3 linked regions of the Homo sapiens genome follow. The gene in region 1 interacts genetically with each later gene. Each region holds a gene or a part of one and is shown in the gene's direction. Other genes may lie near its edges.

Region 1 (8,380 bases):
AGACCAGCCTGGCCAAGATGGTGAAACCCCATTTCTACTAAAAATACAAAAATTAGCCTGATGTGGTGGTGGACGCCTGTAATCCTAGCTACTCAAGAGGCTGAGGCAGAGAATTGCTTGAACCCGGGAGGTGGAGGTTGCAGTGAGCCGAAATGGCACCATTGCACTCCAGCCCGGGCGACAGAGCGAGACTCCTTCTCAAAAAAAAAAAAAAAAAAAAAAAAAAAAAAAGAAGAAGAAGAAGAAGAAGAAGAAGAAGAGATGGACACAATATCTTGGAGCCAGTGTGAATCATTGTAAGAAAGACCACGTGATGTCAAGGACAGGGTAGGAAGAAACATAAGTTTCCATTTTTAAAAATTAAAACACTAGTTATTCCCTAAAATGAGAGTCTGAGTGGCTGTTCATTACCACAACTTAACCATATGAGTATGTTCACCCCAAATTCTGAGTGAAAAGACCCTGAAGCTCTAAACTTTTTCTCTTTCACCTCCCCCGCTCCACCATAAAAAGAAACAACAAAAAAATTGACATATATGGTCATTTGTCCTGAGTTCCATGAGATTTGCAGCAACCAAGGGGACCATACCATGATCAAGCTATTAAAAAATTGGTTGGATGCAGCGGCACATTTCTGTAATCTCAGCACCTTGGAAGACCGAGGTTGGAGGACCACTTGAGGCCAGTTCAAGACCAGCCTGGGTAACATAGTGGGACCCCATTTCTACAATTTTTTTTAAAGTTAGCTAGGTATGGTAGTGTGTGCCTGTAGTCTGTGTGAAGGCAGGAGGATTGCTTGAACCTGGGAGTTCGAGGCTGCAGTGAGCTATGATCACCACTGCACTCCAGCCTGAGTGACAGAGACAGACTTCATCTCTTTACCCAATATGTGTAATCTGGGAAGAGGAGAAGGCTCATAACACTCACCCTTGTAAACATCAGGGAAGAGACCTTGACATTTGGACTGTGATTGCTGATTGGACGGGAATGGGTTGGCAGGGGAAGTGGGTGAGATGTTTTAACCAGGAAAAAGAAAAAAACAAAAACAAAACTATGAATGTGTGAAAAGAGACTTCTCAAAGAAAGAAAGGAAGAGAAAAGTACTGGTCACTCCCCACACAGACAGAATGCCATGGAGTTGCTCTTTCTTGCCATGAGTTTAATGACAAGCTTCCTTCCCCTTCATATGCCAACTAAGCAGCAGCCAGCAGGTCATTCCCCGTCTTTGCTGCCCAGCCAGGCCTAGAGTCTTCCCCAAACACAGTCACAGATATTCCCAGGCTTGAATGCCATCCAGAGACTAGTCATCTGATGCAATTTCCTGTGGTCTGACAAACGAACTCCCATCCAAACACGTTGTGCTTGGGGAGTCTGACTATATGATCACATCTCCCAGGACTCAGGCCCACTCTGACCACAGGATTCTTCTAAAGACACCACCGACAGAAGTGTGTGCAATTGCACCATATAATTTTTGTCTGGGAAGTGAAATATCTCTGTCGTTACATCATCTTCCTTAGCATAGTGATCCCTTAAAAGAAGAAAGCCTAAATAAGATCCCTTCTCAAAGCCAAACTATTAAAACAATCCTTTTTAAATATTCTTTCCTGTCTTCCATGCTGTACAAGTACAGCTTTCACACAATTTCTCTTCTGATCTTCAAAACAATGCACGGAGGGGTGTATTATTCCTGTGTCCTAGTCCAGCCAGGACTTCCTGCTCCCCTTTCCCCCCGATTCCTGCAAAGGTGACATGGCCAGCCCGGCCAATTCACGTCTGAGAGACTGGCTTCCTGTGACAACCTTCACCCCCCTCCCCTGACCCACAGGCCTGACACAAAGAGACTGCCGGAAACTCCCCACAACGGCCAAGTGGGTAGCCACAGTGTCCTGGAAAGGAATTCTAAGCCCACAACAGAGCATTTCTCATCTAGCTGTTTTTTGTTTTTTTTTTTTTAAATGGGATTGGGGTTGGCGACCAGCCAAAGACGGGTGGCAGAATGATGAAATCATACAAGCCCACAGCACCGATTGATGTCGTAGTGGAAATGGGGACAGGCTTTTGTGCTAACCAGAGTGTTCCTACATACACTCTCTGATTAATAATAGTGATGGCCCAGGAACAGCCGTGACAGTCAAAGAGAAACATTGCTGTATTTGTAACATTCCATTTTTTTAAAGAGTGTATATTCATATATTCTTTATGAAATCTAAGTTATCTTGAGAAATGAAAAGAAAATGGCCATTGCTGCCACTTTGAGAGCCCTCCGACTCAGGGGTGTTGTGTGGGTTGGGGGAGATTTCCAACTCCCTGCTTAATTATCTCAAAACACCCCATCCATTCGGGTCAGCCAGCATTTGACTGCCTGCTACTGCGAAGCTCAATACTGCACTCTGCCTAATAAGCACAAAGCCCGCGGGTCTCTCCAGGAAGGCAGGGGTGGTGGGTCAGAAAGAGCTGGCTCTCAAATCGCCCATGCCTGTGATTGGATGGGGAGGAGTTGAGACAATAGACACACAGCCAACTAACCAAAGCCAGAGACAAAGGAGGTAGATTCTAGATCAGTGTTGGCATAGGAGTTGGTCCTGAAGAACTGCTGGGATTTTGATGAGGAAGGGAAGGGTTGGCGTGGGTGGGACAGTCTATAGGAGGAAACATCTTGGAAGAAAATTAGGATGTAGATGAGAAGCAACTTATGGTCACTTCTAATTCCACTCCTATCCCCTGGCCACACATTCCATTCCTCTAAGGTGTCCAATCTATACACCCCTGCCACCACCCCTATCCCATCTCAGCAGGAGACAATATGTGAAAAGAAAGTTCTTCATTTTTCCTTCTTTTCCATTTCTTTCTTCCTGTCTTTCTTTCTTTTTTTTTTTTTTGTAACAGAGTCTCGCTCTGTCGCCCAGGCTGGAGTGCAGTGGCGCGATCTCGGCTCACTGCAGGCTCCACCCTGGGTTCACGCCATTCTCCTGCCTTAGCCTCCCGAGTAGCTGGGACTACAGGCACCCGCCACCTCGCCCGGCTAATTTTTTGTAGTTTTTAGCAGAGACGGGGTTTCACTGTGTTGGCCAGGATGGTCTCAATCTCCTGACCTCATAATCAACCCGCCTCGGCCTCTCAAAGGGCTGGGATTACAGGCATGAGCCACCGCGCACAGCCCTTTTTTTTTTTTTTTTTTTTTGAGACAGAGTCTCGTTCTGTTGCCCAGGCTGGAGTGCAGTGGTGCAATCTCGGCTCACTGCAACCTCCACCTCCTGGGTTCAAGCAATTCTCCTGCCTCAGCCTCCTGAGTAGCTGGGATTATAGGCAAGCACTACCATACCCAGCTAATTTTTGTATTTTTAGTAGAGACGGGGTTTCACCATGTTCGTCGGGCTGGTCTCGAACTCCTGACCTCGTGATCCGCCCACCTCGGCCTCCCAAAGTGCTGGGATTACAGGCATGAGCCACCAAGCCAAGCCCACTCGTTTTTCATTCTTGATATTGACAGACTGCCCAGAGACAGACAGGAGTGGGTAGTGAGGGTCAGAAGGATTAAGGAGCTTGCCTAGCCGATGAGGAAGGGAACAAGATAAGATGCAAACCTCAGTCTCTGACTCTCAGCCAAGTGCTCACTACCCCAACTAGCTGTCAAATGAGGTGGATGGGGCCTTGGTTAGGTACATAGACACCTGAGTCATATCAACCTGGTGTGAATCCCAGCTCTGATGTTGAGCGATTGGCCTAGCCTCTCTCTGCCTCCATTTTCTCTTTTTTCATTTCATTTTTCTTTTTTGAGGCAGAGTCTCACTCTGTCACTGCCTCTGTTTTCCATAGCAAAATGGAGTTAATAATGCTTACATGAGGGATTAAAACGAAGACAATGCCTACCTAATGCTTAGAATGGTGCCTGGAACATAGGAACAATGTTGAAACAGTCTTTCATTCTTCCCTCCTATCACTGTGATCATCAGTACCACCACACACTGCTTCTCATTTAGTGCCTGAATTTTAGAGCCTGCCTGGAGGCTGGAGCCCTGCCTGGACATTTCCCTTAATCTTGTTATCCTCCTCAGAGAGGCGGCACCCACCCCATTGGCAGACGCCACGGGAATTCTCTGGGCCTGCTTGTCATCACTCCAGATGTTGTTTAGAGTTCTTCTGTTAGCACAGCTGTTTCTAGGGTCTGGAAAAACTCTAAGGACCCCCAGGAGGATACACACCAGATTGGGTCTGGGCTCACACCACCCTGCATCCCCAGAGCCTCCCTGGACGCTGTTTGCAAGGTCCTCACCGCCTGGAAGTCCAGGAGCCATTTTTAGGGAACAGCATTCAAGCTCAACATGGCAAGTTCCCTCTTTCCTGCAGGGGAGGACCAGAAGGGAGCCGGAGATGGGGGAGAAGGGTGGGAGGTGGATGGTTTGGAAAAGGGATGGAGACCCAGACGGAGAGAAGCCAGCCAGCCAGGGTGAGGGAACAAGCTGCTGTGCTGCCCAGGAGAGGCCTGGCCTCAGGCTGCCAGCCTCAGGGAGGTAGATGCGGCTGTGACAGCAGCAAAGAATGACGGCCAAGGGCGACAGCAGGGGCTGGCCATGCTGTAAAGGGGCTTCTTGGGAGGGTCCAGCCTCAGGAATCAAGGGGAACTCCTGAGCCGAGAATTCTGAAGATCTCCTCCCTCCCTGAAGCTGTGGGCTGGGCCATCGGAAAACTTTCAGTTTTGTTTCCTTGCCTGCAAGAAACGAAACTCAACCGAAAGCCTGCAGAGAGCAGAACATGGAAGGAGACTTCTCGGTGTGCAGGAACTGGTAAGAAAGTGCTTTCTCCAGCGGCAGACCCGGGCTGGCGAGGGAGAGACGTAGACGACATAGGGCTGTTTCTGAAGGGAGCAGAAAGTGGTTCCTGCATAAGAACACTTAGGAGGACAAGCAGCTGGAGACCGTGGGCCCCAAGGGTAGGAGGGTTTAAACTTGGTAATCTCTGGGTGGGGGTGGGCAGCATTACCTCCACTTCACTGCAGCCCCTTTCCCCCAAATGTTAGGCTTTCTGGGACAGTTCTGAAGCCAAATAGCCCGGCCAGTGGTCCCAACTGGGCTACTCATACTTGTGAGACCTTGGGTCCTAATTTGGGGTTCTGATACTATGACCTTCACACCCATCTGTGAAAGAAAGTGTCCCACGGAGATTCTCCAGGACTACTCTCACCCTCCTTGGAAAGGGAGCCGTGGGGCGGGGCAGGGGGGACAGAGCAGGGGGCTGGGACCACACCTCTAACGGGAGGGGGGGCGCGGAATCTGACCGATCAAAAAGCCCCATTCTCAAAGCTCCCTACCTGTGACAGGGACCTGAGTGGACCCTCCCCAGAGAGCTTTGCTCCAGCCAGACCCTTCAAGTACTCTGGTTTCTCAACCAGCCCAGGAAGAGCAGGGGGAGAAGGGGCCAGGTCAGGCAGAGGAGAGAGAGCAGAGGAAGGGAAGATGATGCTGCCTGTGTGCCCGCTGCCTGGGCAGAAGAGGAGTGAGGCTTTGACAGTCCCTCTCGGAGCACGTCCCCTGTGCCAGGAACATGGGCATGTAACTCTTCTCGTCCCCTGGGCCTTTACGGCTACAGCCACCCCATTTCCCTTCTCCCAAGCTGCCACAAGCAAGAGCTGATGGAAATGAAAGGAGTCATTTCTTTCTTTCTTCTTCTTTTTTTTTTTTTTTTAAGATGGAGTTTCGCTTCTTTTTGCCCAGGCTGGAGTGCCTGGAGTGCAATGGCGCGATTTCAGCTCACTGCAACCTTCATCTCTCGGGTTCAAGTGATTCTCCTGCCTCAGCCTCCCGAGTAGTTGGGATTACAGGCGTGCACCGCCATGCCCGGCTAATTTTGTATTGTTTTAGTAGAGATGAGGTTTCACCATGTTGGCCAGGCTGATCTCTAACTCCTGACCTCAGGTGATCCACCCGCCTCGGCCTCCCAAAGTGCTGGGATTACAGGCATGAGCCACCACACCCAGCCAAAAGGGGGCACTTCTTGGCAAAAAGGACGGTTAGAGAAAAATGCCCTGCCCAGGAAGTGGGAGGCTCAGAACCCTTCCTTCACTGTGGTCTCCAGGAAGAACCTCGGAGTCTCTGTGAGTTAGCGCAGGTGAACCTGAAGGCAGGGGAGACTTGGGAAGCTCTCGCTTTGGAGATTTTGGAAGTTGGCATGGCCCTGGCAGGAAGCGTGAGCCTAGCAGGGCTGCGTTCCTAACACTGTGGACCAAACAGGGGCACCAGAAAACAAGAAAAAAGATTCAAGAGAATTTGGCACTTCTCTCAAATTATTTAAATTGAAATAATTTAATTATTTACATTATTTAAAATGAAATGTTTCATTTTAAAAACAGCCTTATAGAGGTATAATTGACCTACAATAAACCTCACATTTTAAAGGGTAGCAATTGATAAGTTTTGGCCTAAGTTATATACATCCATGAAACACCATCCCCGTAATTGAGATAATGAAGCTTCCTGTCACCCCAAAAGCTCCCCATGCCCCTTTGTAATTCCTCCCTCCTGCTCCTTCCCATGCCCTGCCCCAGCAATGTAAGAGCTCTGTAGATCATCCTTATTCTTATTAGATGCTGCCTCACTGTTCTGACTTTTGGACCCACACAGGGAGTGTGGGGCAGGTGGTGTCATCATCATCACATGTTCAGTGCTTAAGGCCTCTGGAGATCTAGCCCTGGGTATGAAATACAGCTCCATGTTTTATAATATGAAAATAAGTCTATTTTTCTATCCCCACACCTTGACCCTGTAGTAAAAGACATGTAGTCTCTGCCAACTTCACCCTCCATGAGGCTTACTGCCTGCGGTTCCTGGTCCTGTGTCCGGAGTGTGAGGAGCCTGTCCCCAAGGAAACCATGGAGGAGCACTGCAAGCTTGAGCACCAGCAGGTGAGGAGGCGGCAGGGAGGATGGGGTCTGAGAGTCAAGGTGAGTGTTCAGTCCTCCCTGCAGGTGAGATGGGGTCTGAGAGTTGGGGGACGAGGGTCTAGTCCTCCCTGCAGGTGAGATGGGGTCTGGGAGTCAAGGCAAGTGTTCAGTCCTCTCTGCAGGAGAGATGGGGTCTGAGAGTCAAGGCGAGTGTTCAGTCCTCTCTGCAGGTGAGATGGGGTCTGAGAGTCAAGGCAAGTGTTCAGTCCTCTCTGCAGGTGAGATGGGGTCTGGGAGTCAAGGCGAGTGTTCAGTCCTCTCTGCAGGACAGATGGGGTCTGAGAGTCAAGGCGAGTGTTCAGTCCTCTCTGCAGGTGAGATGGGGTCTGGGAGTCAAGGCGAGTGTTCAGTCCTCCCTGCAGGTGAGATGGGGTCTGGGAGGGGCAAGTGTTCCATCTTCCCTGCAGGAGAGATGGGGTCTGGGAGTCACAGAGTGGGTCCAGTCCTCCCTGCAGGAGAGATGGGGTCTGAGAGTTGGGGGACGAGGGTCTAGTCCTCCCTGCAGGTGAGATGGGGTCTGGGAGTCAAGGAGAGTGTTCAGTCCTCCCTGCAGGTGAGATGGGGTCTGGGAGGGGCAAGTGTTCCATCTTCCCTGCAGGAGAGATGGGATCTGGGAGTCACAGAGTGGGTCCAGTCCTCCCTGCAGGAGAGATGGGGTCTGAGAGTTGGGGGACGAGGGTCCAGTCCTCCCTGCAGGTGAGATGGGGTCTGGGAGGGGCAAGTGTTCCATCCTCCCTGCAAGAAAGAAGGGGTCTGGGAGTCAGGGAATGGCTCCAGTCCTCCCTGCAGGAGAGATGGGGTCCGGGAGTTGGGGTGAGGGCTGGGGACTTAAGGCAAGGGTCCAGTCCCCCAGGCAGAGACTCACTTGAGGGCCATGGGAAGTCATTTAGCCCCTCCACACAAAGCCCATGGAAAGGAAATGTTAATCCTGCCTTTTTCATGCTAATCTGAGTCTACCTCCAGTTTTCCTATTTCCAATCCTTTCCCTACAGGCTTATGGATCTGGCATAGGCAAGAGGTTCTGGTTTCAGGAAAGACTGGCTGTTCTCTTGAGATCTGTAAAGAGAGGATGTGAAAAAGGAAGGTCCTGGAAGGCAGTCAGATGGAGCCCTGTTTCCCGCCTTTCCATGTCCATTCCTCCTGGGGCCCCTGATCTGTCTCTCTGGAGATACTCAAGCTCAGGCAGCCGTTGCCAACTCAGACTGGTCTGACAAACACTTCTTGAACACTGGGCGGGGTGCTAGAGAGACACTGAGGTAGCCACATCGGATCCCTGCCCTCTGGGAGTTCACAGACCCAAACCCGGAACACTGTGAGCCAAAGTGGATGTGGGGCAGGCCCTGGGTGCTGGGTGGACCCACATCTGGTGTGTGTGTGTGTGTGTGTGTGTGTGTTTAGGTTGGGTGTACGATGTGTCAGCAGAGCATGCAGAAGTCCTCG
Region 2 (7,586 bases), on another chromosome or scaffold:
TTAATCAGCATTCTTTCTTGCTGGCTCCAGCCTCAGGCGTCTCCTCTTTGACTTTGATTTCATCGCCCTGGGATTTGTAATAGAATTGATCCAACCGAATTCAATCAAGGGCCTGGTCGTTTCCATGCATGGCTCATTAATATTTAGCACCTCTGCCCCAAGAATGACCAGATTCTCTCCTTTTACACTAACCACCCATAGGATACTTCATTGAGACAGTATGAGCCTTCCAGTTCACCTAAGATGCTCAGGCCCCAAAATGAATGCTCCGAATTCTTGCTTCTGAACGTGAGGTGTAGATCTGTCTTTGGACATCTTGCAATATGTTCTTGCTGCCTCTCCCTTCATATGAAACATTTTACCTGATTCGTCCTTTGAACACCCCTACTTTGGGCACCTTCCTCAAATGTGGACTGCTTTAGAGTTGGGGCTCTGTGGAACAATAGCACCGCATTTTGGCGAATGACTGGATTCCCTGGCCAAAGCTCTTTCCCATACTCAGTTATTTCATCTTTCCTCTCCTAGGGCTTCCTTACGCTTTTCAGTGTCACCAGGCAGTAATCCTAAAGTCCAGCAAGGTTTCCAAAAAATATAAATCACAGAAATATAGCTGTCCGGCACGGTGGCTCACGCCTATAATCCCAGCACTTTGGGAGGCCAAGGGTGGGGCAGATCACCTGAGATCAGGAGTTCGAGACCAGCCTGGCCAACATGGCAAAACCCCATCTCTACTAAAAAATACAAAAAATAGCCAGGTTTGGTGGCACACACCTGTAATCCCAGCTACTCGGAAGGCTGAGGCTGGAGGATCACTTGAACCTGGGAGGCAGAGGTTGCAGTGAGTCGAGATTGCACCACTGCACTCCAACCTGAGCGACAGAGCAAGACTCCACCTCAAAATAAAAAAAGGAATTTAGCTGTCCTCCATAGAAAGTCAAGGTGATAAAAATATTTCAAGCACATTCCAGAAACTTAATGAAGAAAAATAACTGAGTACAAGATACAACACATGAAGTGCTCAAATCAACAAAGGATGGCGGAAAGGAGGTTACTCATTACCTTTCTCTCTTAAAATGCGCTCCCTTTTTCCTGGGCAAAGTCTTCCTCAGTCTGGTTCTTAGACTAAGAATCAGTACCATGGCTGGGCACAGTGGCTCACGCCTGTAATCCCAACACTTTGGGAGGCTGAGGCAGGCAAATCACTTGAGGTCAGGAGTTCACGACCAGCCTGGCTAACATGGTCAAACTCTGTCTCTACCAAAAATACAAAAATTAGCAGCTGGGCGCGGTGGCTCATGCCTATAATCCCAGCAGTTTGGGAGGCCAAGGCAGGTGGATCACAAGGTCAGGAATTCGAGACCAGCCTGGCCAATATGGTGAAACCCCGTCTCTACTAAAAATACAAAAATTAGCTGGGTGTGGCAGTGGGCGCCTGTAGTCCCAGCTACTCGGGAGGCTGAGGCAGGAGAATCACTTGAACCCGGGAGGCGGAGGCTGCAGTGAGCTGAGATCACGCCACCGTACTCCAGCCTGGGCGACAGAGCGAGACTCTGTCTCAAAAAAAAAATTAGCTGGGCGTGGTGGTGCATGCCTGTAATCCCAGCTACTTGGGAGGTTGAGGCACGAGAATCACTTAAACCTGGGAGGCAGAGGTTGCAGTGAGCCAAGATCACACCACTGCGCTCCAGCCTGGGAGACAGAGCAAGACTCCATCTCAAAAAAAAAAATCAGTATTGTTTCTGTGCACATCTCACCCCAGCAGGACTGGTTGCCCAAGGAGGCAGGACAGCCCCCAGCCCCAGCGCCAGGCTCTTGTTCATTCCCTGGTCTGCCCTGCCCTTCTTGGTGGGGGACCATCTGCCTGTCTTTCCACCTGGAAGATGTTTTCTTCTCCATTAACTCTACTGTTCTTTAGCGTTTAAGGAACAGAAGCAATGCTTGTTGTAACTATGGTTTCTAACTATACAACACAAACCACACAGTCTTCAGGCTGCTTTGTCGTAGCCTTCACTTACTAAACCCCTCTTTTTCTGCTTCCGTTGTCATTGAAGTTAGAGAAAGGTATCTGGAATTTTCTGCCTCCCACACTTTCCTAGGCCATTATGCAGTTTGCTCCTAAAGAAGCCCAGTGTTGGCCCAGCGCGGTGGCTCACGCCTGTAATCCCAGCACTTTGGGAGGCCAAGGGCAGGTGGATCACCTGAGGTCAGGAGTTTGAGACCAGCCTGGCCAACATGGTGAAACCCTGTCTCTACTAAAAATACAAAAAAGTTAGCCAGGCGTGGTGCCGGGTGCCTGTAATCCCAGCTACTTGGGAGGCTGAGGCAGGAGAATCACTTGAACCTGAGAGGCAGAGGTTGCAGTGAGCCGAGATCGCACCATTGCACTCCAGCCTGGGCAACAAGAGTGAAACTCCATCTCAAAAAAAAAAAAAAAAAAAAAAAAAGGAAGCCCAGTATCTTCTCACTAGTCTGGGTCTGTTTGTTGCTTTTGCCATTACAAAAGTGCTTGCATTTAATGAATGGCTATGACTGGTGCATCTGGGTGCATTTGATTGGAAATTTCATTTAGGTGTGTATTAATACTGCACTGTGTGTTAGGCAGCCCTCTCCTGGAGGAGAGCTGAGGCACAGGGACATGGGGGGCTAGTAAAGCATCTCTTCTGCTTTTATCAAGGGGTGATGGTCCTGTCTGCAGAACTCCCCAAGCTGGGGTGGGGAGATGGCCCCCACTCGGCAGCAGAGCTCCCGCCCTCTGGGGCTCTTGCCCCTGCTGGGCTGGACACTCATGCCCTGTCCTGCCCTGTCCTGTTCCATCAGCCTTCTTGGACTTGGGCTGTCCCTGACTGTCAGCGTCTTCATCTGGTTTATCCTCTGGCCTCGCCACCTCATCTGCGTGATCTGTGATGCCTCCTCCTTATTCACGCTCTCAGCCTTCTCCCTGCCACCCCCGTCCCTGGTGGTACACAGTCACCGTCCTTAGCACAGGGCAGGAGCTCAGAAAATACTTGGATGAGTTAAAACCACTGGGCTCTGAAGAGGCTCCTGGCTCCCCTGGCTCTCTGGCTGGGTAACATGGAAGCCATCCAGCTCAGGGTTTAACCCACCTCTCTCAGAGCCCCTGGCTACTCAGAGCGTGGTCCCCCAAGCAGCAGCACTGGCACCCCCTGGGAGCTTGTCAGAAATGCAGGTGCTCGGGCCCCCCAGAGCTGCTGGCCAGAGTCTGCACTGAACAAGATGCAGGAATTACATTTGAGAACTGTTGATGGAGCCACCTGCTGACCATGAGGTCACCTCTGGAGGGTTGCAGTGTTTTTTCCACTCTTCAGCCCCCTTGGCAATAACATGGAGGCAGTTTTGTGCTTGGCCATGTTTGGCTCACAGGGCCATTCCCCGGATGATTTAGTCTCATCCTGCCTAGAGGCAGGTAACTGGACCAGGTGACTCTGAGGGTTATTTTAGCTTCTAGTAGTTTATTAGGTCCCACCACAGACACTGTCTCCTCTGATACTCATAGTCACCCATGGTGGGGACCAAGCAGGGATCCTGTCTTAGTCTATTTTGTGTTGCTGTAACAGAGTACCTGAGACTGGGTAATTTATAATCAATAGAAGTTTATTTGGCTCACGATTCTGAAGACTGGAAGTCCAAGAACAGGATGCCAGCATCTGGCAAGGACCTTTGTGCTGCATCTTCCTAGCACAGGAGGCAGAAGGACAAAAGAGCATGAGGGTGAGGGGGCCAGACTTGTTTTCATCAAAAAAGCCAATCTCTCAATAGCTAACCCACTCCCGAGATAATATTAATGCACTGATGAACTCATACACTCATGAGGGCTCTGCCCTCAGGACCTAACATCCCTTACTGGCCCCACCCTAAACACTTGCACTGGGGACTAAGTTTCTAACACAAGAACTTTGGGGAACACATTCAAATTATAGCAGATCTCTCCTACCCATTTTCCAGATGCTGAAAGTAACACCTCCCAGAGGAACGGCACTGGGCCTGGCCTTAGGCCACCAGCCCACCTTGCCTCTCCTGATTCTTTTCCGCTTTCCCTTGCTTCATTCCCTCATGCAGCCCCGACCACCCTCCCAGCCGAGGGAGTGAGCCAGAGCCCCACTGCATCCAGAGTCAAGGCAAAGTCCTAGTGGGTCCGGGGGAGATGAGGCTGATTTGTTACTGCCCGGCCTCAGGCACATGTTTCTTCCTGGAAGACCACTGTTCTCTGGTGGGGTAGCATCTTCTGGGCAGCTGGGACCCTGCCACTGATCTGACCTCTTTCTCCTCCCGCCACAGTCAACACCAGTCACCACTCGTCCTCCTACAAGTCCAAGTCCTCCAGCAACGTGACCTCCACCAGCGGTCACTCTTCAGGGAGCTCATCTGGAGCCATCACCTACCGGCAGCAGCGGCCGGGCCCCCACTTCCAGCAGCAGCAGCCACTCAATCTCAGCCAGGTAAGCCCCACAGCTGGCGCCCCAGGCCAGGCAGGGCCCCCATCCCCTCATCCTTCCGCTTCAGAGAGGATTGCTGTGGCGGCCCCTCACCCACCTCACAGGGCTGCAGTCCTGGCCACGGGTGGCAGCACATGCCCTTGGTGACCTCTGGTGGCTTTTTCTACCACAGGTCACCCTTGGGGAAGTTGATATCACCAGTGCACAGAGTGCTGGCCCAAAGCAAAGCGACTTGTCTAATGTTACAAAGCCCTTAGTGACATGGTGCCAGAGCTTAAAAATAGGATGGCCCACATACTGCTGTTTCAACCCAGCAAAGGGTAGAGCACTGTGTCCCGGCCCTGTCGGCCTGGGACATCAGGGACAGACCTGCATCCGACTCATTGCAGGGAGGGCCCGCACACCACAGCCCCCAAGTCAAGGGTAAGATTTGTCCCAGGACCTGGAGGAAGGGGGGTGGGTTGAGGTGAAATGTGAGTGACCTGAGTTTCTGTGGGTGCAGGGCTGTCTGTGTCAAGGGCTCGGCATCAGGCCTGACTCACGTGGTGGACTCAGGGCCCTGTTTCTCTAGAAACAAAGTGAGATAAATGGGGTGTTTGTGTTCAGAGCCCCTCATCTGAAGTGCTGCCCCAGGTCATCAGTGGAGCCCGTGTCTCTGTCACGTGACTTAGGTTCACCAGGTAGAAGAGGGCTATTTTATTTGGACTGACAGAACTTCAAACAGCAACGCTTCTGAGAGCCAACTTTTTTTTTTTAAGACAGGGTCTTGTTCTGTCACCCAGGCTCAAGTGCAGTGGCACTGTCATGGCTCTCACTGCAGCCTCTGCCTCCTGGACTCAAGTAATCCTCCACCTTAGCCTCCCGAGTAGCTGAGACTACAGGCATGAGCCACCACACCCAGCTAATTTTCAAAATTTTTTGTAGAGATGTTGTGAGAGCCAATAATTTTGAGAACAAGATTTTACAGTGAGTAAGAAAGCAACTGCTGCTCAAAGAGAGTGTCCTGGCCGGGTGCGGTGGCTCACGCCTGTAGTCCCAGCTTCTCGGGAGCCCAAGGCGGGGGGATCATTCTAGGCCAGGAGTTCAAGGCTACAGTGAGCTAGGTTCATGCCACTGCACTCCAGCCTGGGGCATCCTGATACTTCACAGCTTCTGTACGTCCTTGGGAGAAATATGTTCTCCTATAACTTTGCAGCTGGCTTTATCCGTGTATCATCCCAGCCCAGTGAGTGGCAGGCCAAGTCGGGATTTTCTCAGTCCAAGTAAATTTTTTTTTTTTTTTTGAGACAGAGTTTCACTCTGTCACCCAGGCTGGAGTGCACTCGCGTGATCTCAGCTCACTGCAACCTCTACCTCCCAGGTTCAAGTGATTCTTGTGCCTCAGCCCACCGAATAGCTGGGACTACAGACAAGGCACGTGCCACCATGCCCGGCTAATTTTTTTGTATTTTAGTAGAGACGGGGTTTCACCATATTGGCCAGGCTGGTCTCGAACTCTAGACCTCAGGTGATCCGCCCACCTCTGCCTCCCAAAGTGCTGAGATTACAGGCGTGAGCCACTGCGCCAGGTCCCAAGTAAATTTTTACTTTCTCAACACACAGAGGGAAGCCCCTTCTATTACTTCTGGAGTCTTTCCCTTCTCTTCCTCCTCCCTGCCCTCCTGCCCCTCCTCCCATTCCTTCCTCCCCATGTGTCGGCCCCTGACGTCTCTCTTGGTGCCTCTCCTCCCCAGGCTCAGCAGCACATCACCACGGACCGCACTGGGAGCCACCGAAGGCAGCAGGCCTACATCACTCCCACCATGGCCCAGGCTCCGTACTCCTTCCCGCACAACAGCCCCAGCCACGGCACTGTGCACCCGCATCTGGCTGCAGCCGCTGCCGCTGCCCACCTCCCCACCCAGCCCCACCTCTACACCTACACTGCGCCGGCGGCCCTGGGCTCCACCGGCACCGTGGCCCACCTGGTGGCCTCGCAAGGCTCTGCGCGCCACACCGTGCAGCACACTGCCTACCCAGCCAGCATCGTCCACCAGGTCCCCGTGAGCATGGGCCCCCGGGTCCTGCCCTCGCCCACCATCCACCCGAGTCAGTATCCAGCCCAATTTGCCCACCAGACCTACATCAGCGCCTCGCCAGCCTCCACCGTCTACACTGGATACCCACTGAGCCCCGCCAAGGTCAACCAGTACCCTTACATATAAACACTGGAGGGGAGGGAGGGAGGGAGGGAGGGAGAGAATGGCCCGAGGGAGGAGGGAGAGAAGGAGGGAGGCGCTCCTGGGACCGTGGGCGCTGGCCTTTTATACTGAAGATGCCGCACACAAACAATGCAAACGGGGCAGGGGCGGGGGGGGGGGGGGGGGCAGAGGGCAGGGGGACGGGTCGGGACACCAGTGAAACTTGAACCGGGAAGTGGGAGGACGTAGAGCAGAGAAGAGAACATTTTTAAAAGGAAGGGATTAAAGAGGGTGGGAAATCTATGGTTTTTATTTTAAAAAAGAAAAAGGAAAAAAAAAAAGTCAATAACAAAAAACCCAGCTCAAGAACCCATTCTACGCCAAACTGGAAAGGAGAAGAGAGCAACAGGAAGATTCCAGAAACGGGGGGCCCCAGTTTTTGAAGAACTTTATGAACTTTTCAAAGATTATTTTCATATGGCAGCAAGTGATACGGAAGACTGCTGTCAGGGACACCTGATATGGAAATCAAATAGATTTTTAATTAATTGAACATAAGATTTAGGGATTTTTCCAGAACTCGAAAGGGTCAACAGCCCTCCAGAATGTCGGGCTGCAGCCTGAGGAGGCTGATGTTTGGAGCTGGTGTGGGATTGGCGAAGCCCAGTCCGGGCTCCCTAGTCAGGAAAGACGGGGGACGGCCAGGCTGCTGGAAGGCCCCCGGGGGCGCGGGGCGAGTTTTCTTTTTCTGAGCACTCTGGATAAATCCCTAAGCAACGTTGTTTCTCAAATGTCATTAATAATGTGTGTTGCAAACTTTAGGTTTTTTTCTTTTCTGAAAATGTATTTTCTCTTTGAATCCACCCCTAGTCGCGTAGCGTAGGGCTAGCGGTCGTCACAGACACCCTAGTAGAATGTAGCACTCAGCACCCTTGTCTCCTACCTTGTGTTC
Region 3 (6,131 bases), on another chromosome or scaffold:
GAAGCCAGGTTTTGTCATTCTTGAGAATTGGAATGAGTAGTTCTTATCAGAGTCAGTGGTTCTCAACTGGGGCCATTTTGCCCCCTACGTGACATTTGGCCATGCCTGGAGAGCTGGAGACATTTCTGGTTGTCACAACTGAGGGGCAGGGGGTGGTTGCTATTGGCATCTAATGAATAGAGACCACGGATGCTGCTAAACATCCTGCGGTACACAGCACAGCCCCCACAACAACGAATTATCAGGTCCAAAATGTCAATAGCACCACTGTCGAGAAACTCAAAATAAACTCCATTGTCAGGAAGGTCCCTCACCTGCCTTCTCCTTTAGGTTGTTTGTTTGTTTGTTTGTTTGTTTTTTGAGACAGAGTCTCAGTCTGTTGCCCAGGCTGCAATGCAGTGGCACGATCTCAGCTCACTGCAACCTCCTCCTCCTGGGTTCAAGTTATTCTCCTGTCTCAGCCTTCCTAGTAGCTGGGATTACAGGTGCATGCCACCACACCCAGCTAATTTTTTATATTTTTTGGTAGTGACAGGGTTTCACCATATTGGCCAGGCTGGTCTTGAACTCCTGACCTCAAGTGATCCACCTGCCGCAGCCTACCCAAGTGCTGAGATTACAGGTGTGAGCAGCGCGCCTGGCCTCCTTGAGGTTTTATCCCCACTGTTTCCTCCACTCACCCTGTGCTAGAACCAGATGGAACAACTCCATCCACAATCCACTTGTCTACAATAAAGCTTTCCTTACCATGTCCTCCTCACCCTGTCCCACCTTGAAATCACCTGTTGCCCTCCTGGTCTTCCTTTACATAGTTGTTAAATTTATTATATGGTCTTTCTCAACTGGAAACACCACAAGGGCAGGATCCACAGCTGATTCCTTCTGTGTGCTCTAGGATAGAGGTTCTCAGCCCTGGAAACTCTTAGAAACCCTTGGAGCTCTTCAAGAAAACACAAGCCCAGGCTGGGCACAGTGGCTCAAGCCTGCAATCCCAGCACTTTGGGAGGCCGTGGCGGGTGGATCACGAGGTCAGGAGATCGAGACCATCCTGGCTAACACGGTGAGACCCCGTCTCTACTAAAAATACAAAAAATTAGCTGGGTGTGGTGGCAGGCACCTGTAGTCCCAGCTACTTGGGAGGCTGAGGCAGGAGAATGGCATGAACCCGGGAGGCGGAGCTTGCAGTGAACCGAGATCGCGCCACTGCACTCCAGCTTGGGTGACAGAGCAAGACTCCATCTCAAAAAAAAAAAAGAAAAGAAAACACAAGCCCAAGGCCAGGGGCCAGTGAGACTTGGCTTTGCTGCTCAGAAGCACCTAGACAGTTTTACATACAGTCTTGGGGAATTCACAAACTACTAAAGTCCTCCCTCGGATCCCTGGATGAGAGCCCCTGATGAAAGTGACAAAACACCCATGGTGCTCTGACATGCCATTCCAGAACAATGCCAAAACTGCTTGAAGTATGAAATGTGGGGTGTGTGTGTGTGTGTGTGTGTGTGTGTGTGTGTGTGTAGGGGGTTAAAATTTAGACTTTAGTCATCATAAAAGTGGCACCAGTTGTTATGAAGACATGAACCTTACCCATGATGGAAAGAGAAGGGATAGATTGCCATGAAAGTTCTGCTTGTTCAGTAAAAGCAGAGTAAGCACCTAAGGCTTTAAAACTATTTATTTAAGTTAATAGAGGATGTAGCAAGATCCTTATGAAAAAACATGAGATCGTTGTCCACACAAATGCAAAGTAATGCCTTTTCTATTTGTGCAGTTTGGGGAGGTTCCCTGTTCTGTATATTTGGGTGGAAAGAAGTGTTGAATATGTGATTTGTAAGGCAAATCAAATAATTCAGAGTATAAATACTCCTACTTGAGTGGGGAAAGTTATAAAATGATTGCCAAGTGATAAATATTTGCTGTAAATGTTGAGTTCGTCATGAATGAGGAGTGGTTTGGGACTTTGGGCAGAGGTGCAGCTGGTACCTTTCTGGGTGCCATTGGCCAAAGTTCATCTCATTCCTGGGCAGCTATGGGGAAAAGTTCGTCTTGAAACATCTTCAGATATTGAGAGCTTGTTTCGAGACTCTGCCAGGCTCTGGGCTATTTCTTGCTATTTTTATTGTGTGTGTGTGTTTTTTTAAACTGGACAGAAATGTCTCACCCATCACTCACAGAAGAACATGAGGAGGCTCTGTATTCCTAGCCACACCCTAGATTTAAAACACAGTTAATAGGGATTTGTTTTTCAGGCCTTATAAAGTAAGGAACACAAAGTATGAATACACATGGATAAATAAATTTGTTTCTCCTGAGTGAGTTTTTTTACAGCCAGGCTTTAGAAATTAGTTCAGAGTTTTAAAAGATGAACAAACAATTCCTATGGGCAAATAAGTAACTGAAATATTTCTGCCAATTTCTGTTAAATATTATAATCCGCTTAGGTATGGGGAAGTGGGGGTTGGAGGATGAGCTACATTTCTTTCTTTAAGCCACTCTCCTTTCCGATTAGGGGAGACTAATCCCCCTGAGAGTGGAGGCTGTCATCCTTGCTTCGGAATCCTCTGAGTGACTGTAACTTAGCGTCTTGTATGGAGAAGTCACATAGTGCATACCATCTGCTTGTTGCTAGTGATAAATTCATCTATGAAGGTTAGAATTTGACCGACTTCAAGTTTAAAAGGGGGATTATTCTATAAAGCAGGGTAGAGAGAAGCAAAAACAGCAGTGGTGCTTTTTTTTTTTTTTAGCAACTGGACATAGCATCTTAGAAAAATGACCTGGCCTTGCCCTTATTTGGTGCCTTCATGTCTCAGTGGAGCAGGGGAATCCAAGTGTAGTTAGCCAGACAGTTCCCCTGCCATTCTGTGCTCCAGGGGTCTAAGGCTGACACCTAGTTTCACCTGAAAAGGTGATTCAGGTTTCTTAATTCTTTACAGAACAGCTTAGTACTCAGGGCAGGTGTCTACTTGTGGGCTGATCTCCATCTGGTATCTAGGAATTAACACTGTCATCCTTGTGAGAGTCTGGAGTAGAAGTTCAGTTCCTCTTGGTGTGGTCTTTTGCCACGGCAGGTATGATTTATCCATTAGGAATGTCATCCCAAGTGCAAGGGAGAAAATGATTTTGTTCTCCTACCCTATTAAGGCAGTGTCTGAGGGGCAGACTGATCATGTCAGCAAACTTGTCTAGTTCTGCTTCCTCCCGGGCCTGTTGTGAGGACCTGACATACCTGACCATGAAATGATGTGCTCTTGAATCTGAGGAAGTGTTGGGGGTCAGCAAGCTTTGAGAGGAGGGTTAGGCCCTTCTCATGTTAACCTCTACTGGCCAGAACCAGACTGACCAGTAGTCTTCTGAGTTAGTTAAGTAGCTCTTGGATGTGATTTCCTTCCACCCAAAAAATATGGGCAAAGCCCCCCAGAGGGAAGGTCAAAAGGATGCAGTGGGGTAATATTTCTAGCTGTATGAAGGGGTCTCCAGGCCTCCGCTGCCCTAGCCTGGTGATGCCAGCAGCAAAGAGCAAGGAACCAAAGGGCAGCCTTCCCCACGGCCTGCCTGCCAGTCACCAGTTTGAGCCAGAAAGCAGTGGAGGGGGACGACAGAATTATACTGTTGTTAATATTGTCTATATGTGAAAACTAATCTTGGGATAATATAATATTCCTTGCCCAACCCCATCCCCACCACCCAAGCAATTGAATTCTTTAAAAAACAGCTTCACAGAAAATATGGGGAAGACCAGCTTTTATAGGGCTTGCTCAACAATTTTGAGATGTGCACAGTAAGAGAACTTTAGTTCTGATCCCTTTGACAGCGGAACAGGGGGCATGGAAAACAGCGTATTTCTGGTTCAGGAAATACCCTTCATTTTATGCATGACAGCATTGATGATGAATAGAGACGGAGACTTTTAGTCTTGAATATTTCACTTGCTTTGAGCAAAAGTAGTTAAGAACACAGTTTAAGCCCAGGAAAATGGAGTAGTTAAGTACTCATAGAGGGTTGAAGCAATAGAAGTTTTGAGAAGGCCCAATGGCTCAATGCATTTCTTTCTTTGCAGTATGCCACCACGGGCTGTTCCCTGACCCTGCACCATACGGAGAAACCAGAACATGAAGACATATGTGAATACCGTCCCTACTCCTGCCCATGTCCTGGTGCTTCCTGCAAGTGGCAGGGGTCCCTGGAAGCTGTGATGTCCCATCTCATGCACGCCCACAAGAGCATTACCACCCTTCAGGGAGAAGACATCGTCTTTCTAGCTACAGACATTAACTTGCCAGGGGCTGTCGACTGGGTGATGATGCAGTCATGTTTTGGCCATCACTTCATGCTGGTGCTGGAGAAACAAGAGAAGTACGAAGGCCACCAGCAGTTTTTTGCCATCGTCCTGCTCATTGGCACCCGCAAGCAAGCCGAGAACTTTGCCTACAGACTGGAGTTGAATGGGAACCGGCGGAGATTGACCTGGGAGGCCACGCCCCGTTCGATTCATGACGGTGTGGCTGCGGCCATCATGAACAGCGACTGCCTTGTTTTCGACACAGCCATAGCACATCTTTTTGCAGATAATGGGAACCTTGGAATCAATGTTACTATTTCTACATGTTGTCCATGATGTGACTTTCGTAAACCTTCAAAATTATTTGGGCATAGTGCTCTATGTTTAATAAAGGTTTTTATAGATGTTTTATTCCATATGTCTTCACAAGTCAGGACCCACAATTACCCGTGTTTTGTTTGAACAGCAGTGTCCCATCTGGCTTCGACCCAACAAAGTTCATTAACCTGGGATGAATGGGGTTGGCCTGTTGGTGATTTGGATGCTGTTCTGTGATCTAAAACAACTCTTATTGAATTGTATTTACTCCCTAAACAACACTTGACAGGCTGTTGCACAGGGCTTCTATAGATCAGTGTGTTAGGAATGGGAGGCCCCTTCCTGCCTGCCTTCCCATATTGGTCCCTTGACATTGACAAAAGCACAGTGACTGTCAGCAGATTCCTTTACTTTTGTTTGTGGGAGGTAGGAATTGTTTTAATGCATTTTAAACAGTGTTTCTGAAATTGGATGGCTGGCTAATAGACACTGAATCACCCGGAGTGCTTATCTTAAAATTGCAGATTTAGGGAGCCTGCCAATTTAACAGTCTCATCAGGTGATTCTTTTCAACAGTAATGTTTGAGAATTACTGGGTTAAATTGTGGGAAAGGGTCCAGATTTTAAAGGTGCTTTAAGGTTGCCCTCTGCCGATACTGTTTGTCTTTCTACTGTTTCATCCCCTAACTTCCCCCAACCCTCAAATTAAAACTAGAACTATAGATCCACATGAACGCACGCCTGAGATTTGGCCACTCACCTATGTTTTGGGTGGATTGCCTAGGAAAGCAAGTCATATGGCCATTGATAGTTCTCATGTAATTAGTTTTGCTCACCACTAGTACAGATGACCCGTTTACACGTGGCTTCCCTCGGAAGCCCTCCTCAACAGTAGCTGGTGTGAAAGACTAAATCAGTAGAGTTGGAAAAGCTTTATAACCGGTGTGTCATATGCTTGCTATTTAAAGCTGTGTGTTGGTTTTGTTTTTCTGCCACATTCACTAGTTTTTTAATAAATATTTTCCAAAAATGGATATTGTGCTTCATTTCCCTAATTGAGTAATGGGTATTTATTGAGCATCTACTGTGTGCAAGTGCAATGAACCTTCGTCACTACATCTGGGGTTGGAACTTTCACTGTTTGTTTCCACTGTGGAAACAGTCATTGGGCCAAGGTCATGGCACGGGTCCATGACAGCACTGGGGTCCGGGCTCATGTGTCTGAACCACTGACTGTCAGTGCTGCAGGTCTCCTCCCAGGGCTGTCGTTTCTATCTGACAGTGCCAGTACCTGTGCAATAAGAGGATTGCTCCAGCTTTACAGAGTCAGAAGGAAGACGCTTGGCCACTGCTGACATCCAGAGTGCTGGCGTTGATCCAAGCTGACCCACTCCCTCAGTCCCAACCCTAAACTCTCAAAAGAATTTAGAGGATTAGGGCCAAATGCTCAGCAAGGATTGAAGGCTGCTTACCTCAGTGTCCCAATTTCTTTCTTTTTTTTTTTTTTTTTTTTTGAGACAGAGGCTGGAGTGCA

What was found.
Region 2: of XAF1 (region 1) and HIPK2, changing one suppresses a phenotype caused by changing the other (phenotypic suppression), as found in Homo sapiens cells (one study listed by BioGRID).
Region 3: of XAF1 (region 1) and SIAH2, changing one suppresses a phenotype caused by changing the other (phenotypic suppression), as found in Homo sapiens cells (one study listed by BioGRID).

Annotation. Positions count from the first base shown.
Region 1 is NC_000017.11:6,751,324-6,759,703, forward strand, and holds the start of XAF1 (XIAP-associated factor 1), read left to right. Parts: upstream 1-4,722; 5' UTR 4,723-4,755; coding exon 4,756-4,787; intron 4,788-6,765; coding exon 6,766-6,901; exon of another isoform or gene 6,902-7,019; coding exon of another isoform or gene 7,020-7,302; exon of another isoform or gene 7,303-7,445; coding exon of another isoform or gene 7,446-7,636; intron 7,637-7,932; coding exon of another isoform or gene 7,933-8,151; exon of another isoform or gene 8,152-8,338; coding exon 8,339-8,380. UniProt on the Homo sapiens protein: Seems to function as a negative regulator of members of the IAP (inhibitor of apoptosis protein) family. Inhibits anti-caspase activity of BIRC4. Induces cleavage and inactivation of BIRC4 independent of caspase activation.
Region 2 is NC_000007.14:139,571,999-139,579,584, reverse strand, and holds part of HIPK2 (homeodomain-interacting protein kinase 2), read left to right. Parts: intron 1-4,296; coding exon 4,297-4,457; intron 4,458-6,187; coding exon 6,188-6,658; 3' UTR 6,659-7,586.
Region 3 is NC_000003.12:150,740,625-150,746,755, reverse strand, and holds the end of SIAH2 (E3 ubiquitin-protein ligase SIAH2), read left to right. Parts: intron 1-4,057; coding exon 4,058-4,615; 3' UTR 4,616-5,631; downstream 5,632-6,131. UniProt on the Homo sapiens protein: E3 ubiquitin-protein ligase that mediates ubiquitination and subsequent proteasomal degradation of target proteins.